3 separate regions of the Homo sapiens genome follow, and all the other regions are reported to be linked to region 2. The links are microRNA targets in miRTarBase. Many come from high-throughput screens and were not tested one by one. Region 2 holds a microRNA gene; each other region holds the end of a gene's coding sequence.
What was found. The annotated mature microRNA hsa-miR-519e-5p reads UUCUCCAAAAGGGAGCACUUUC and lies in region 2 at 1,790-1,811, shown strand. An mRNA with a match to its seed (bases 2 to 7 or 8) in the 3' UTR can be bound and repressed. Matches are read on the target gene's strand: a 7mer-m8 pairs with bases 2 to 8, a 7mer-A1 pairs with bases 2 to 7 and ends in A, and an 8mer does both.

Region 1 (5,221 bases), not on the chromosome of region 2:
AGCCAACATGTTGCAGGAATACTCCAAGTTTCTGCAGCAGGCTTTGGACAGAACTAGCCAAAATGATGCCTATTTGAATAGCCCGAGCCTTAACTTTGTGACTGATAACCAGACCCTCCCAAATCAGCCAGCATTCTCTTCCATAGACAAGCAGGTCTATGCCACCATGCCCATCAATAGCTTTCGATCAGGAATGAATTCTCCACTAAGAACAACTCCAGATAAGTCCCACTTTGGACTAATAGTTGGTGATTCACAGCACTCATTTCCCTTTTCAGGTGATGAGACAAACCATGCTTCTGCCACATCAACACAGGACTTTCTGGATCAAGTGACTTCTCAGAAGAAAGCTGAGGCCCAGCCTGTCCACCAAGCTTACCAAATGAGCTCCTTTGAACAGCCCTTCCGTGCTCCCTATCATGGATCAAGAGCTGGAATAGCTACTCAATTTAGCACTGCCAATGGACAGGTGAACCTTCGGGGACCAGGGACAAGTGCTGAATTTTCAGAATTTCCCTTGGTGAATGTAAATGATAATAGAGCTGGGATGACATCTTCACCTGATGCCACAACTGGCCAGACTTTTGGCTAAAAAAAAAAAAAAAGTGTAAATAATACTGGCACTTTAGAACAGATTAATCAAGAGTGGGGTTACTCTGTGTAAATGGAGTGCTGTACAGATTTAAGAGCAATGCGTAATAACAAGTTAAGCTGATATGAATAGCAAGATAATCCAATAACTGCATTTCGTTTGGTTAGTCAGCATTCTTTGAACTGCCTTACATGTTGTCACCTTTATAGAAGCAATGCATTACTTGTTTTAGATCAGAAACTTGCTATTCCACCCACACCAAGTTAAAAAGGAAAAAAAAAAGACTTTCGCACAATTGTTTCCTAACTGATAACATTGTACATTCTTAGGAGATTAGTAATTGTGTGAAATTTACTCATACTGTTTCTAAGTTTTTCAGCATAGTCATTGCACTTCAGCAGGGAATCTGAGTATACTTTACAGACAGAGTGAACTTAAAAGTTTAATGTCAAGAGATTATGGCTTAAATAAATTAGTGTGTCCTATAGGGGGAAAAAAACCAAGAAACCACCTTTTAAAAAGAATGATATGCCATATACCCTTGATTTTCATTTTGCATTATATTGACGTGTTTTTTTGAAGGAAAAAAAGTAATAAAAATCTGATAGTCTAAGACTCCACTATTTAAAAGCCTAATTACTTTAAAAATATGCATACTTTCAGAACTTTTACCAAAACACACAACTGTTGAAGCAGTCACTTCTCTATGGAAGTATGCATATTGGTGTCAGTTTCTTTGTACAGTTGTACTTAGATATTTTTTATGATTTTTCATGTGCAGGTATCAAGGTTTTGAAGTTTTAGTAAAAGAAATTCTGTAGATTACATTCCCAAGAACATAATGCTTACACAAAATGTATATTCCACGTTTTAAAGCTTAATTGTATTTTACTTTACATATACACTTCAGTTAACATAGAGCACTTAGAATCTATTTGGTATTTTTGATTTCTCAAAGTAAAAAAAAAATTAGATTTTTAGGTTTGATATGGTTGTGTCATAATCATCTCGTAATTGACAATTTTAACTTTTGGCAATAAAAGGAAATTGGGATATCTTTGGAACTGTAAAACCTGGTTTAATCTTTTTCTTTCTAGACTCTTGATAGATTGGATAATTAAACAGTATCCAGAGAAACTAAAGAAATGGGCATTTTAATTGCATATTTTATCTTGAGTTACTTTTTAATGAACACTGCTCATTACAACTTTACAAACCAAAAGTGTTTACTAATTCCAGTAACTACCATTTCTTTTTCAGCTAGATGAGTGATCGGAAAATTTTTGTTGCATTTCAAAATCTAAATAAACTACAGACTTTATCCTTATACCATGAATGTTTTTTTTTAATACTCTGTCTTAAAATAATACAGCATGGTACAATAAATAGTGCTTTTATGTATATATACACACACACACTTTTCTGAAGAATGATGGTTTGAGTTATGCGTTGGGCAGTTTTGATTTTTGGAAGTTATATTAGTTATTGACTCTTTGTTACAACTTTTTCATTTTTACATTTTAAATTTTCTGCCATCGTTGTCACAATGCACATCCTGATATAGCACCAGTGAAAATCTAAAATTAATACCCTTGGAAAATGAAAATATTCTTAATTTCCATTTTGACTCTTATACTGGCCCTATAGCTCTGCAGTCTTTGTTTCAATATAGAATATGTTATCCATTTAAATTATTTTTTCTTTTATTTAATGTTATCCCAAGACTGTTCTCATAAAGAAAGGGAAGAAATAACTATCCACCCTTAACATCCTTCATTTATTTTGAATATATTGGTGTTTTTATGATAAGGAATATAAATTATATTTAATGTGGTTTCCTGTATACTTTGGTTATTAAGTTTTGCTTGAAATAGTAGTTTTCCCGTTTGACAGCTTTCTTTGCTGCCAAAGTTTTCAAGAATTTAAGACTTCTTTGAAGTAAATATTTAAGTTCTGCCATTATTGACTCTTAAGATTGTGTGTGTTGTGTTGTGCATTACATAATTACAAAAAGGCTTCATTCAGGTGATACGTTAAAAATGGAACTGTGCTCACCCTAAATAGGCATTGGTATTTTTCTCTTTTGGTGAGAGTAGGCATTTATTTCTTGAGTTGTTTTGGAGCCTGATCAAAAATTTTGTTCATGGAGAACTTGATGCAATTTTGATACAGTGGAGAGGTTTTTTTCGGTTGTTTTAACATCACCAGCATAGTTTTTAGAATGTGACTCTTGCTGAGCATTTAGGGTGAGCTTGGGAAGGAAGGCCTTTGAAAATGGTAGTTATGCAAGCAGACTTTCAGGTGTTGCATTCCTGTTTTCAACACATTTCTTTAAATCTACATAATGGCAGACTTTTCTACCAGGTTATAAGCAGTTTTTAGATAAGTGATACTCAGCCAGCATAACTTATTGACTTACCATTTACGTATAGTCATCACTCTCTTACTGTGAAATTCCAAATGCCTACCAGAGTTACCTTGTTCTATCATAATATGACAAACATCTCAACAGTTTTGGATTTCCCCACTTTGGTTCAGAAGGTTATTTAATTTCTATCTGGGCATTAATGGAGAAAATAAGTAGCCTTGTGTGCTGCTTCAGATTGAAACATGGAGGATATGAGATATTCTTCTGCAATTCATGTTTCTCATTTCTCAAAGTGAGCACATTGTTCTATAAAAACATGCTGGTACACCCTTAAACTTTTGATCAATCTGAGTGAGGTGTGCTTTTCCTCTTGGGACCTACTCACGTTTGAAGATTGGAAACATCACGTTAGGCGAGGCAGTATCTCTTGAACATCTTCTAAAGGGTTTTTTAAAACCTTATTCTCACATATTTCATTTGTCTTGAATATTTAAGTGGCTCTTAAACGTTTTGGGTCTACATGCAAATGTGGTACTTAACAAGGTAGGAATCCATCTTCTTAGCTCTGGCTGAGGGTGCCAGCCATCGGTCAGGTCATTTTTATCTCAAGAGGCAGAAGGCAGTTATGTCAAGAATTGTGCTCAGGGCAGGATTTCGTTTCCACAGAGGAGAGACACTTGCAGAGTGCCAGCTAGGTTAGATCTTTTGCCGCTTCTTTCATTTGATTAATTTGGGTTTTTAAAGGGCTGTTTAAAAAAAAAAAAAAAAGGCCGGGAAACTTTAAAAGTAGGCATTACTGTAGTACTGCATTTCTTAGAACATTTTAAACTAGAACTCATTTTTTTTTCACAGTATATTTACTTGAAGAAGCACTATAATAATCATTGAGAAGTATTTTGAGTCTGAAATTTAATTTAATTTTCCGTTTCAAATTGCTTTATTTCAGGGAAATAATTTTCCAGTTGTTTTGCTATATTCTGCAAATAAAAACCGTGTTTCCTTTTTTCACTTAAACTTTGGTAGGAAACAAACTAAAGCAGACAAACATTTCTTGTTATGTTTGTTGCTTTCTTTAATCCAATGGATAAAAAAGTAAAACCCTGTAAACATTATTTTATTTTTTTATGCAATACCATGCTGTAAATATGGTTCATCAAATAAGGATGTACCTATGATTGAATCTTTAATTCTGCACAGTTAGAGTTTATATATAAACGTGTCTTGACAATCAAGGACTTTTATGTGAGTCTTCCTTTATGATGTTTATTAATGTTATGCATTCCATTTGTTTTGAAGTGAGTACCAATGTGCTAATTTGTATTGTCTGAAAGTATGTAATGTTTTTACAGCTTGTTTTTAAGAATCTGTAAATATGTACAAACAAATCACAGTACTGCTTTATGTTAGAAGGCATATGATGTTGTACTGTATGTAAGCAATAATACATAGCAGTGCTAACTTTACAAGTAGCATCAGGAAAGTTCTAAAAACATTTCAGAGTTATTAATTATCCTTATTTCATTTAATAATGATTATCTTTAATCAGTTTTTATAAGCAAATTCCATTGTTCCTCCTATTGGAACGTAACACTGTTTACACAGCATAATTGAAGTTGCAGGGGAGACAGGCTAAATCTGACTTCATCTGTACTCACTTTCACTAAGCATTGAATGGCCTTACCACTCTTCTGCAAGATGGAGGAAGACCGCAAAACTTAGTGCCCATCACACTGAAGGAAGGGATGTGGTTTTTTTTCCTGCTTCTGTACTGCTACCTAACTTTGTGATTTGCTTTGGATTTTAATATTTGTTTCTGTTTTAGATTCAAGCCCGTAAGTTTTGAGGTGACTTCAGCTCCATTGTGAAATAGATAGTTCTCTTCATATTTCATAACTACATTTCAATAATTCTAAACTTTCTACATTGATTTTTAGATACTTATTTTTCAAGCTTGGTTTCTCAGCTGATCAGATGAATTTATTCAACTTCAATACAAAGAAAGACAAACCTATTATAGTTTCAAGTGAGTAGATATTATACTGTACAGGACAGCTATTTGAACACACACATCACTGCTTTAGAAATAAAACCGCCAATTTATAAATGTATATGACCTACATTTTATAGGAAAAAATGTTTTTAAATGCTAGTCATTTATATAATGTGCTTTGAAGGATTTGCTAGTCCACTTCTGTCACTTTTTAGTACACTGGTATCTTTTATATGTAATGTATGCTTTTTATTATTGTAGCAAAGCATTT
Region 2 (5,221 bases):
TTATTGAGGTTTTACAGCCTAGCCTGTGGTCTATCCTGAAGAATGTTCGTGTGTGTGACAATGTACATTCTTTTTTTCCCCCCAGCTCTGTCAAATCTTACTGAGGAGCTTTTACGGCCTAGCCTGTGGTCTGTCCTGGAGGGTATTTGTGTGTACAACAATGTATATTCTTAAACATTATCTTAGATTCCATTTTGGATGTTCCCATCAGGACTGTGTGTTTCTGTGCTGGAACTCAAGTGAACACTGGCTCAACATCCTTAGAAATCCAGCCCAATTCTCTTGGTTAAAGATAAGGTATGTGTGGTAGGCATTGCTTTTTCTCTTTGGGGACAAAACTCAGGAGGATTGCCCCTTGATGAACAAGGCTAACCTGCTAAGCCTTTGAAGCAAGGAACTGGAGATGGTCCTTTCAGGGGTTTATGTTCTGGATTCCATAAAACATGCAAACAGGGGCAATGAATGCACCTTTTTTATTTTTATTTTTATTTTTTTTTGAGATGGAGTCTTACTCTTGCCAGTCTGGAGTGCAGTGGCACGATCTCGGCTCACTGCAACTTCTGCCTCCTGGTTCAAGTAATTCCCCTGCCTCAGCCTCCCGAGTAGCTGGGACTACAGGTACATGCCACCACAGGCGGCAAATGGTTGTATTTTTAGTAGAGACGGAGTTTCACCATGTTGGCCAGGATGGTCGTGGTCTCTTGACCAGCCTCCCAAAGTGTTGGGATTCCAGGCGTGAGCCACCGCGCCTGGCCAATGAATGCATCTTTATTTTTGTGTTCATTTTAATCTGGTAAGGTAAATTCCAACAAAAAACCCAGAGTTTTGGAGTGAGAAGATCTCATGCAGTCATTCTCCAAAAGAAAGCACTTTCTGTTGTCTGAAAGCAGAGTGCCTTCTTTTGGAGCGTTACTGTTTGAGAAAAACCACGTTGAAGTTGATGCTGATCTTGGTAACACATTTGCAGAGCGTGCTTATCATCAGACTTGCATGATGTTGGGGTTCTGTTTTTGTTTAGTTTTTTTGCAACACAGGGTCTCTTGCCCAGGCTGGAGTGCGGTGACACTTCCAACCTAGACCTCTTGGGCTCAGTTGGTCCCTGCCCCCACCCCCTCCCCCTTTTTTTTCTCTTGAGACAGTCTCTCTCTGTGGCCCAGGCTGGAGTGCAGTGGTATGTTCTCTGCTCACTGCAACCTCTGCCTCCCGAGTAGCTGGTATTACAGGCACATGCCACCACGCCTGGCTAATTTTTGTATTTTTAGCAGAGACGGAGTTTCATCATGATGGCCAGATTAGTCTTGAACTCCTGACCTTAGGTGATCCACCTGCCTCGGCCTCGCAAAGTGCTGGGATTACAGGCATGAGCCACTGTGCCTGGCCCACAACGTATATTCTTAAATATCATCTTAGATTCCATTTTGGTTGCTCCCATCGGGACTGTGTGTCCCTGTGCTGGAACTCAAGTGAACACATGGCTCAAAATCCATTGCTGTTCTCTAGAAATCCAGCCCAATTCTCTTGGTTAAATATAAGGTATGTGTGGTAGGCTTTGCTTTTTCTCTTTGGAGACAATACTCAGGAGGGTTGCCCCTTCGTGAACAAGGCTAACCTGCTGAGCCTTTGAAGCAAGGAACTGGAGATGGTCCTTTTAGGGGTTTATGTTCTGGATTCCAGAAAACATGCAAACAGGGACAATGAATGCATCTTTATTTTTGTGTCCATTTTAACCTGGTAAGGAAAATTCCAACAAAAACCCAGAGTTTTGGAGCGAGAAGATCTCATGCAGTCATTCTCCAAAAGGGAGCACTTTCTGTTTGAAAGAAAACAAAGTGCCTCCTTTTAGAGTGTTACTGTTTGAGAAAAACCACGTTGAAGTTGATGCTGATCTTGGTAACGCATTTGCAGAGCGTGCTTATCATCAGACTTGCATGATGTTGGGGTTCTGTTTTTGTTTAGTTTTTTTGCAACACAGGGTTTCTGTTGCCCGGGCAGGAGTGCGGTGGCGCTTCCAACCTAGACCTCTTAGGCTAGTTGGTCCCCCCTACTTTTTTTGTTGTTTTTGTTCTTGAGACAGAGTCTCACTATGTGGGCCAGGCGGGCAGGCAGTGACACATTCTCTGCTCACTGCAACCTCGGCCTCCCAAGTAGCTGGTATTATAGGCACGTGCCACCACGCCTGGCTAATTTTTGTATTTTTAGCAGAGATGGAGTTTCACCACATTGGCCAGGTTAGTCTTGAACTCCTGACCTCAGGTGATCTGCCCGCCTCTGCTTTCCAAAGTGGTGGGATTACAGGCATGAGCCACCCTGCTCGGACTGCAGGGTGTTTTTTTTTTTTTTTTTAATTATTATTTGTATTTTTTTGTGCTGCCAAAGCAAGCACTTGTGTGTAGGAATTTTGTTTGTTTGTTTGTTTGTTTGTTTGAGATGGAGTCTCATTCTTGTCGCCCAGGCTGGAGTGCAGTGGCATGATCTCGGCTCACTGCAACCTACGCCTTCCGGGTTCAAGCGATTCTCCTGCCTCAGCCTCCTGAGTAGCTGGGATTTCAGGTGCATGCCGCCACCCCGGCTAATTTTTGTCCTTTTGGTAGAATCGGGGTTTTGCCATGTTGGTCCGGCTGGTCTCAAACTCCTGACCTCAACTAATCCACCTGCCTCGGCCTCCCAAACTGCTGGGATTACAGGCATGAGCCACCGCACCCGGTGAGGAGTTATTTTTAATGTGAGCAAACAGTATATTCTTTTTTTTTTTTTTCATAGACAGGGTCTCAACAATATATGATGTATATTTAATCATATAGTCTTATCATGTATATAATGTAGTCATATGTACACCAAACCCTGTTCTACACACGGAGAATACTCTTGTATCACTTTGGGTATTTATTTACTTGTTTCTTTCTGTGTTTTTCTTGTTTGTTTGTTTGTTTTGTTTTGAGACAAGGTCTAGCTTTATCACCCAGGCTGGAGTGCAGTGGTGCCATGTCGACTTACTGCAACCTCCACCTGCCACCTCAGCCTCCTGAGTACTTGTCTACAGGTGCGCACCACCACACCCAGCTAACTTTTCTATTTTTTGTGCATAAGGTTTCACCATATTACCCATGCTGGTTGAGCTCGAACTCCTGAGCTCAAGTGATCCTCCTGCCTTGCCCTCTTTAAGTGCTGGGTTTATTGGTGTGAGCCACCACGCCCCACCCATACTTGTGTATTTCTGTATTTATTGAGGAGCTTATACAGCATACCCTGTGGTCTATCCTGCAGGATGTTTGTGTGTGAGACAGTGTATATTCTTGAACATAGTAGATTCCATTTTGGATGCTCCCATCGGGACTGTGTGTCCCTGTGCTGGAACTCGAGTGAACACTTGGCTCAAAATCCATTGCTGTTCTCTAGAAATCCAGCTCAATTCTCATGGTTAAATATAAGGTATATGTGGTAGGCATTGCTTTTTCTCTTTGGGGACAGAACTCAGGAGGATTGCCCCTTGATGAACAAGGCTAACCTGCTGATTCTTTGAAGCAAAGGACTGGAGATGGTCCTTTTAGGGGTTTATGTTCTGGATTCCAGAAAACATGCAAACAGGGCCAATAAATGCATCTTTTTGTTTTGTTTTGTTTTGTTTTTGAGATGGAGTCTCGTTCTGTCACCCAGGCTGGAGTGCAGTGGCACAATCTTGGCTCACTGCAAGCTCAGCCTCCTGGGTTCACGCCATTCTCCTGCCTCAGCTTTCCAAGTAGCTGGGGCTACAGGTGCCCACCACCACGCTAGGCTAATTTTTTGTATTTTTAGTAGAGGCGGGGTTTCACCCTGTTAGCCAGGATGGTCTTGATCTCCTGACCTCGTGATCTGCCCGCCTCGGCCTCCCAAAGTGCTGGGATTACAGGCATGAGCCACTGCGCCCGGCCCCAATAAATGCATCTTTATTTTTGTGTCCATTTAAACCTGGTCAAGGAAGATTCCCACAAAAAATCCACGGTGCTGGAGCAAGAGGATCTCAGGCTGTGACCCTCTAAAGGGAAGCGCTTTCTGTGGTCAGAAAGAAAAGCAAGTGCTTCCTTTTAGAGGGTTACCGTTTGGGAAAAGCAATGTTGAAGTTGATGCTGATCTTGGTAAAATATTTGCAGAGCGTGCTTATCATCAGACTTGGATGATGGTGGGGTTTTGCTTTTGTTTTGTTGTATTCCAAGACAAGGTCCCTGTTGCCCAGGCTGGAGTGCGGTGACACTTCAACCTACATTTCTTGGGCTCCGGTCGTTTTTGTTTGTTTGTTTGTTTGTTTGACAGGGAGTCTCACTGTGTGTCTCAGCAATGCAGTGGCACTATCTTGGCTCACTGAAACCTCAGCCTCCTGAGTAGCTGGGATCACAGGTGCGTGCAACCACGCCCATCTAATTTTTGTATTTTTTGCATTTTCAGTAGAGACGGGGTTTCACCGTGTTAGCCAGGATGGTCTCGATCTTCTAACCTCGTGATCCGCCCGCCTCGGCCTCCCAAAGTGCTGGGATTATAGGCGTGAGCCACCGCGCCCGGCCGAGAAACTAATCTTTTGAGATGAACTCTGAGATGTGGATTTTAGCTTGTTTGCAGCCACCACCACTCTAGTTTTGGAAGATTTTCATCACCCCGAAGAGGCTTATACTCATTTGCAGTCAGTACCCACCCACCTCTTCCACCCAGACCGTGGCAACGACTCCCCATCTCTCTAGCTCTGGATCTGCCTCTTGTAGGCCGGTCACGTAGACCAATCTTGTATGGGTGTCCAGTTGAGGATAATGGGTTGGTCCTGGTTGTCTGCAATGTGAATCTTACCACTGAAGGGTGGTCCCTGGAGGGAAGCAGGAGGCTGGGAGAACTGGGCGGAACATCCTTTGGGAATGGAGTGGGGCGGGCAGACCCTGATGTCTGGGAAGCTCACAAGGGTGGAAGACCCCATCTTCCTCCCTGAGAACTGCAAGGTGACCCTCCTGGGGCACTGGAAGGAGTGAAGGCCTCTGGGCTGGGAACGTCAGGGCACTGCACCGATGCAGGCAGGATGAGCCGAGGGGAAAGGAGAAGCAGGCATCATTCTCTGGGGACATTTTGGGTTTGATCTGGATGGAGCAGGTGTCTTCTGGGAGAGAGAGCCCCTGGGATTTTCACTCTGCTCCCTGGCTGTCTTAGTCATGGAATCTGACAACAGAGACTCCTGCCCAGGGCCACTTCATTTGGTTTCTGGAGC
Region 3 (5,221 bases), not on the chromosome of region 2:
AAAACCCTCCAGTGGCTTCTCATTGTCTTAAGGATAATGTCTAAAATTCTTAATACTAATTATGATAGTACTTAGCCTATGAGGCCCAGTACAGTCTAGCTCCCAAACCTCTCACCAGAGGAATTGTCTCTCTTCTCTCTAGCCACACAAAACTCTCTCACATTTTCTCAGAGCCTTTATGACACTGTTCTTCAGACTGAATTCTCTTCCCCACCCTCTTCATTCTTCAGGTCTCAGTGACCTCCATCGCCTCCCCAAGTGATGGGGAGCTCCAGCACTGCAGGGACTGTTAGGGCCTGCATGGGTGACAGGGTGTAGCAGCTCCAGGGAGCCTCCTCTAACAGGCCTGAGGCCAGAGCTCCAGCTGCTGCCTTCCACCTCCAGGTCCTGGAGTCCTCTCCCCAACCACAAGTGGGTGTGCTGTGCCTGTTTTCTCTGCCTAAGGCTGTGTCTTCGGTTTCCCATGCAGGGGTGTGTGTGCATGCATGCATGTGTGTGTGTGTGTGTGTGTGTGTGTGTTTGTGTGTGTGAATGAATGTGCGTGTGTATAGAGGTTGTCCCAGACTCCTCCCCTCTCCACCCACCACTTATTCTCTGGGCTGGCTCTCTGGCTTTCTGGAATGGATGAGTTTCTTTCCCTGCCAGATAGGGATGGCCCAAGGTGGCCTCATTTGACTTCTCTGGACAGGGCTTCGGGCCCATCCCTCATTCCATGACTTTCTCTCCTGGCTTTGAAAAGAGTTCTGAGCATAATATTCCAGGCATCTCTTCTAAGAGCATAACACTGAATTATGCTTTCAAGCACAGAGGTATTTTCCTCTCTTTTTTTCCAGACATGAGTTCTGGGGCACTCGTGGCTATTGCTAATTCTTAATGCCCTGGCACCATAGAAACAAGTTATGTTCTAGGCTGTGCAAGCAGAGACCTGGCCTGCAGGGGCTTCTCTGGAGGGTAGGGGGTTTTGAGCCCTTCTGACCACCTGGCATTCATGTCTGCTTGTCCATGGCTGCCTTGACTACCCCTCCTGGCCTCTGGTATAGTTGAGCAGAAGGGAGAAGCGTGGTTAAGAATGGCTGGATTTGTGTTTCAGCCTCTTCTTATTCTGTGACCTGGCAAACTACTTTAGCTCTCTAAGCTTCTATTTCTGCAGCAGTAAAATGAGAATTTTAATAGTACTTACCTGTGTCATAGTATCAGTGCAAGTAATAGAAAAAATAATGCACATAGGTGCATAGCCCAATACAGCAGGCCTCTCTGGCCCCATGGCTGAGCTGGCCTCTCAGTTGGCCAATGTGGCCAGGTTTAGGCCACCCCTGTCCCCTGTGTGGGAAAGGCATACCCCATCCTGGGAGGCCTCAGGGCCCAATGCTGAGGGTCTTTGCAGTCCTCTCTACATCCCAGAAAGCTTTGTATTCCCAGAGTGACAGCAAAGACAGAAGTGGACTAAGAAGAGCCCATTCCCCTTCTTCCTCTCCTTCCATTTCCTTGGTTGGGGCTCAGTGGTCAGGGCTCAGGCAAGGCCTGGGCAACCTCCTTCTAGCTTGGGCTACCCTCTGGCCTTCTGATGGGGTGAGGCACACCTCCCTCCCCAAAATCACCCACCCCTGGAAACACACAGTGCTGGCCCCTCAGCTCTAAGGGTCCATCCTCCAGATGGCAGCCCTAATGAATGCTTAGCCCGAGTCTTCATGAGAAAAGAAGGGGTATGGATGGTTAGGAACCAAAAAAGGGAATCTGACCTTCTTTGGTGGGAGGGGAAGGCTGCGCCTTGTCCTCAACCACAGGGAGGATTTCTCTCCAGGGAGAGTTTGGAGCATAGAGTGGAGCCCACATTACTAGGGGGTGGGGCAAAGTCAGGGCAGGGAGTGGCAGGGACAAATGAAGGGGAGAACTGGAAACACACATCTTAGTGTTTGGCATTTATAATGGATCCTGTAGTGATTTTTACTTTAAATTTAAGGGTCTTTAAAACTTATGCTGATCACCTCTTTGGTTTCCGAGGTCATCTTGGTAAAGTGCAGTGTGTGTATTTTAGGTGCTCAAAGTGAAGCATAGCATAGGATACCCAGCATGAGCAAGGCCCTCACTAGCCGCCCAAGCCCGCATGGCTGCAGGGGAGGTGGGAACAGCAGGACAGAGCTATGGGAGAGTGACGGGAACTGAATTCACACCCAAGGTTAAGCCTTACCTCTCAGGACACCTTCTCCCTTGGTCCCCTAGCCTGATGCCTTCACCTTCAGGTAAGTTCCTTCCATTCCTCTCATCTCTTCCCACTTCTGGGAGCTCCTGGGCATTCCTGCTTCCAAATCCTTCATTATCTGTCACAGAACCACAGTGCTATCCTCAGAGTCACTAAGAACACACAGGCTGTAGTGCCATTATCTGGTTGACAATTCTCTTCCCCCCCATCAGTAGAGAAGCCTCATGAGAATGACATGTCTATTCCCCAGGGTCTAACATGGGGGTGCACATAGGTAGCCCTCAACAAATATTTGTGGAACCAATGGATGAATGATTTTAATGGATTGATGTCATATCTCTCTTTCCTCAGACTGGAAGCTATTTAAGAGAGGGCCTCTGTCTGCCACTACCATTGCTGTATTCCCAGCAGCAGTGGACTGACCAGCAGTAGTGCTGGGGATATATCTTTGGGTCATTGGTTCCATGAAGTGAAATGAGCTCCGCCTGCTGGAGTGAATCAGCCTTGGCAGAGATGGGTGTGGGTGGGAAGGAGGTCTGTCCCATTCTCTAGGAAAGTGGGCCAGCCCACCTGTGGGAAAGACACAAATAAAGGCTCTCTGGCGCATTGATCCTGAGCAGTCCCAGACGGCAGGATAAAAATAAGGCCACCTAATGTTGTACCAAGCATTTTATATAGATCATCTCATTTCATCCTCACGATGGACCCATGAAGTAGATGTGACGGTCATCTCCCTATTACAGAAGAGGAGACCCTGGGAGGTCACATGACTGGCCCCAGGCCACACAGGTAGGGGGCAATGGCACCACAACCACATGATATCACCTCTCAGAGTCCTGAGGATATTCTAGATGCCAGAGATTACGGGAGCCGGGGAAGGAATCTGAATGTGGGTTGGCACAGAGGGGATGGGCCTGGAAAACCTGGACTTATGCTGTTGTCAGTGGTGGTCACTGAGAGTCAGGAGGTGTGAGTTCCAGTCCCAGCTCAGCTATTTTACGTGCTGCTGGTGGTTCTCCCTTCCCTGGGCCTTGGTCTCCTCATCTGCATAATGGGATTATGCTGGCAACCACTTCACAGGTTGGTGCTGAGGACTCAAAAGTCCAGCACACAGGCAGGGGATCACCATGCTGGAGGGAAGGTACTTCCAAGTAATAAGAGGAATAAAGTGCGGGGTGAAGGCAACACTGAAAACTTGAAACCCCAGGACCGGAGGAGGGTGAAATAAAAACCTGTTTGGCAAAGACAGGCTCAAACCCCCATGAGCTGTCTGGCTGTCTGAGGGCTGGCTGCTGGAATCTCCCCAAAACCATCCCTCGGGGCTCCTTTCTGAGCTTCTCCAGAGCAGAATTGAGGTGTGGAGGAGCATGACGGCCTCAGGTCAGCACACTGTACCATGCACACAGGACGTATGTTTCTTTGGTTTTATTATTACAAACACACCATGGCTCTGTCACAATAGGGAAATCTAAGCTCTACATACCATTTCTTTTCTACCTGGACAGGGCCCCATAAAAGCCTCCAAGCCACGTGTAGATGTGAGACACATTTGACAGAACATTTCAACTCATAGCTTATAATGATGCCATTTCTCCAGCTGTGCAAGGGCTTTACAAAAACTGTGCCAGGACTTCCCATGAGGCTGGATTGCTTGATTCATGTTTTATGAGCCCCACAATACTGAAGCTCCTTTTCCAGGGACTTGGCATAGGCAGTCAATTCCACATTTGGGATAGGTCCTCTCTGGAAGTGAATGTCAGGCAGTGACATCCAAGTTTCTGCATGCAGTGGGTTAACAGCCATGTTTAGGGGGAACATGATTTAAAAAGTACATCTCTCTCCCTCCTCCCCCACATGCACAAGGCTCACATCTCATTATGGTGCGGCCCATGTACATTAAAGTGTGATACTTGGTTTTGAAAACATTCAAACAGTCTCTGTGGAAATCTGAGAGAAATTGGCGGAGAGCTGCCGTGGTGCATTCCTCCTGTAGTGCTTCAAGCTAATGCTTCATCCTCTCTAATAACTTTTGATAGACAGGGGCTGAAAAAGAGAAGTTGGTAACGTCAAATAGGTGCAGATCTCCCCATGTCTGTCTAGGACACTGTCAGAATCTCAAGGACCAGGGCCAAGCAGCCTCCTTCTGCCATGCTCTCCTGCACATAGCAGGTGCTTTGTGGTTTGTGAAACTTCACTCTTTACTCAAGGCCCGATGTTCTGGTTTTCTGTACCTATCAACTTGGAACTAGATCCTCACCATGGGTTCCTGCCAAGCCCTTTGCAATATTCCCAGACTTCCTAAGCTGAAAACTCACCTTAACCCTAAAAGGTTGTTACTCTTATTATCCTCATCTTACAGAGAAGGAAATGGGGTGCTCTGGGTCTGACCCCAAGTCACCCTGCTGTTCTGACTCCAAAGGCCAGGCTTCTTTTACTGCACCATGATGTTCTTATCTATATACAGCAGATGGCAGGCTTGGGCTTGCTTGGGGGTAAGGCCTAAACAGGTCTGCAATGACTTCAAACCCAGACCAGACTCACCTAGTCGCACAGACCTCTGGGAAGCCTGAAAGAAAACACAAGGTGTCAGGTTTTCTAGTGAAAGTTATACCTGCAACTGCTTATGACAATGGCTTTGCCCATTGCCACCCCTACTCAGAAAAAATGCTGGGGCGAGGAAGAGGAAGGGGAAGGTGGAACTTATAGGCACCAGGGAGTTCCTCAGGTGGCCTTGGCAGACATAAGTTGTGCAAGCCCCTATCAAGTGTGCCTTCAGGTGGACATTCCTAGGAGACCCCCAAGCCAGGCTTTCCCACTGAGACTACAGCCTAGAGTTGAGGGAGCTGGGGCTGCACAGAGGTGGCCTCAGGAGTAGAAGCTCAGGGCCAAGAATCCTTCTCGAGGGCACTAAGGAGACCCCTGTGTACAAAAGTAAAGTGACACAGTAAGCTCCAGGCCTCTGGGTTTAGGATGGCTCCCTGCAGCCTCTCCTCTTGAAGTGCAATCTTTCTGTAAGGCACT

Region 1: the mRNA of ZNF148 is a reported target of hsa-miR-519e-5p. Seed matches in the 3' UTR shown: 7mer-A1 at 2,737-2,743 and 7mer-A1 at 3,161-3,167.
Region 3: the mRNA of TGFBI is a reported target of hsa-miR-519e-5p. Seed matches in the 3' UTR shown: 7mer-A1 at 3,790-3,796.

The regions. Positions count from the first base shown.
Region 1 is chr3:125,227,712-125,232,932 of GRCh38, reverse strand. ZNF148 (zinc finger protein 148) reads left to right here. Exons shown (of 9, transcript NM_021964.3): 9 at 1-5,221. The coding sequence ends at 592. Among named protein-coding and RNA genes, the nearest start is that of SLC12A8, 18 kb to the right of the region's middle. RefSeq lists an enhancer at 1-968 and a silencer at 902-1,102.
Region 2 is chr19:53,678,164-53,683,384 of GRCh38, forward strand. MIR519E (microRNA 519e) reads left to right here and starts at 1,777; the gene lies at 1,777-1,860. It overlaps MIR515-1 (microRNA 515-1), which reads left to right and starts at 840; the gene lies at 840-922. It overlaps MIR520F (microRNA 520f), which reads left to right and starts at 3,996; the gene lies at 3,996-4,082. The region is part of intron 2 of LOC107985342 (a long non-coding RNA gene); the gene reads left to right. RefSeq lists an enhancer at 1-32.
Region 3 is chr5:136,062,208-136,067,428 of GRCh38, reverse strand. It overlaps TGFBI (transforming growth factor beta induced), which reads right to left. Exons shown (of 17, transcript NM_000358.3): 16 at 4,742-4,766; 17 at 3,611-4,243. The coding sequence ends at 4,203. Among named protein-coding and RNA genes, the nearest start is that of TGFBI, 36 kb to the right of the region's middle. RefSeq lists a silencer at 4,652-4,751.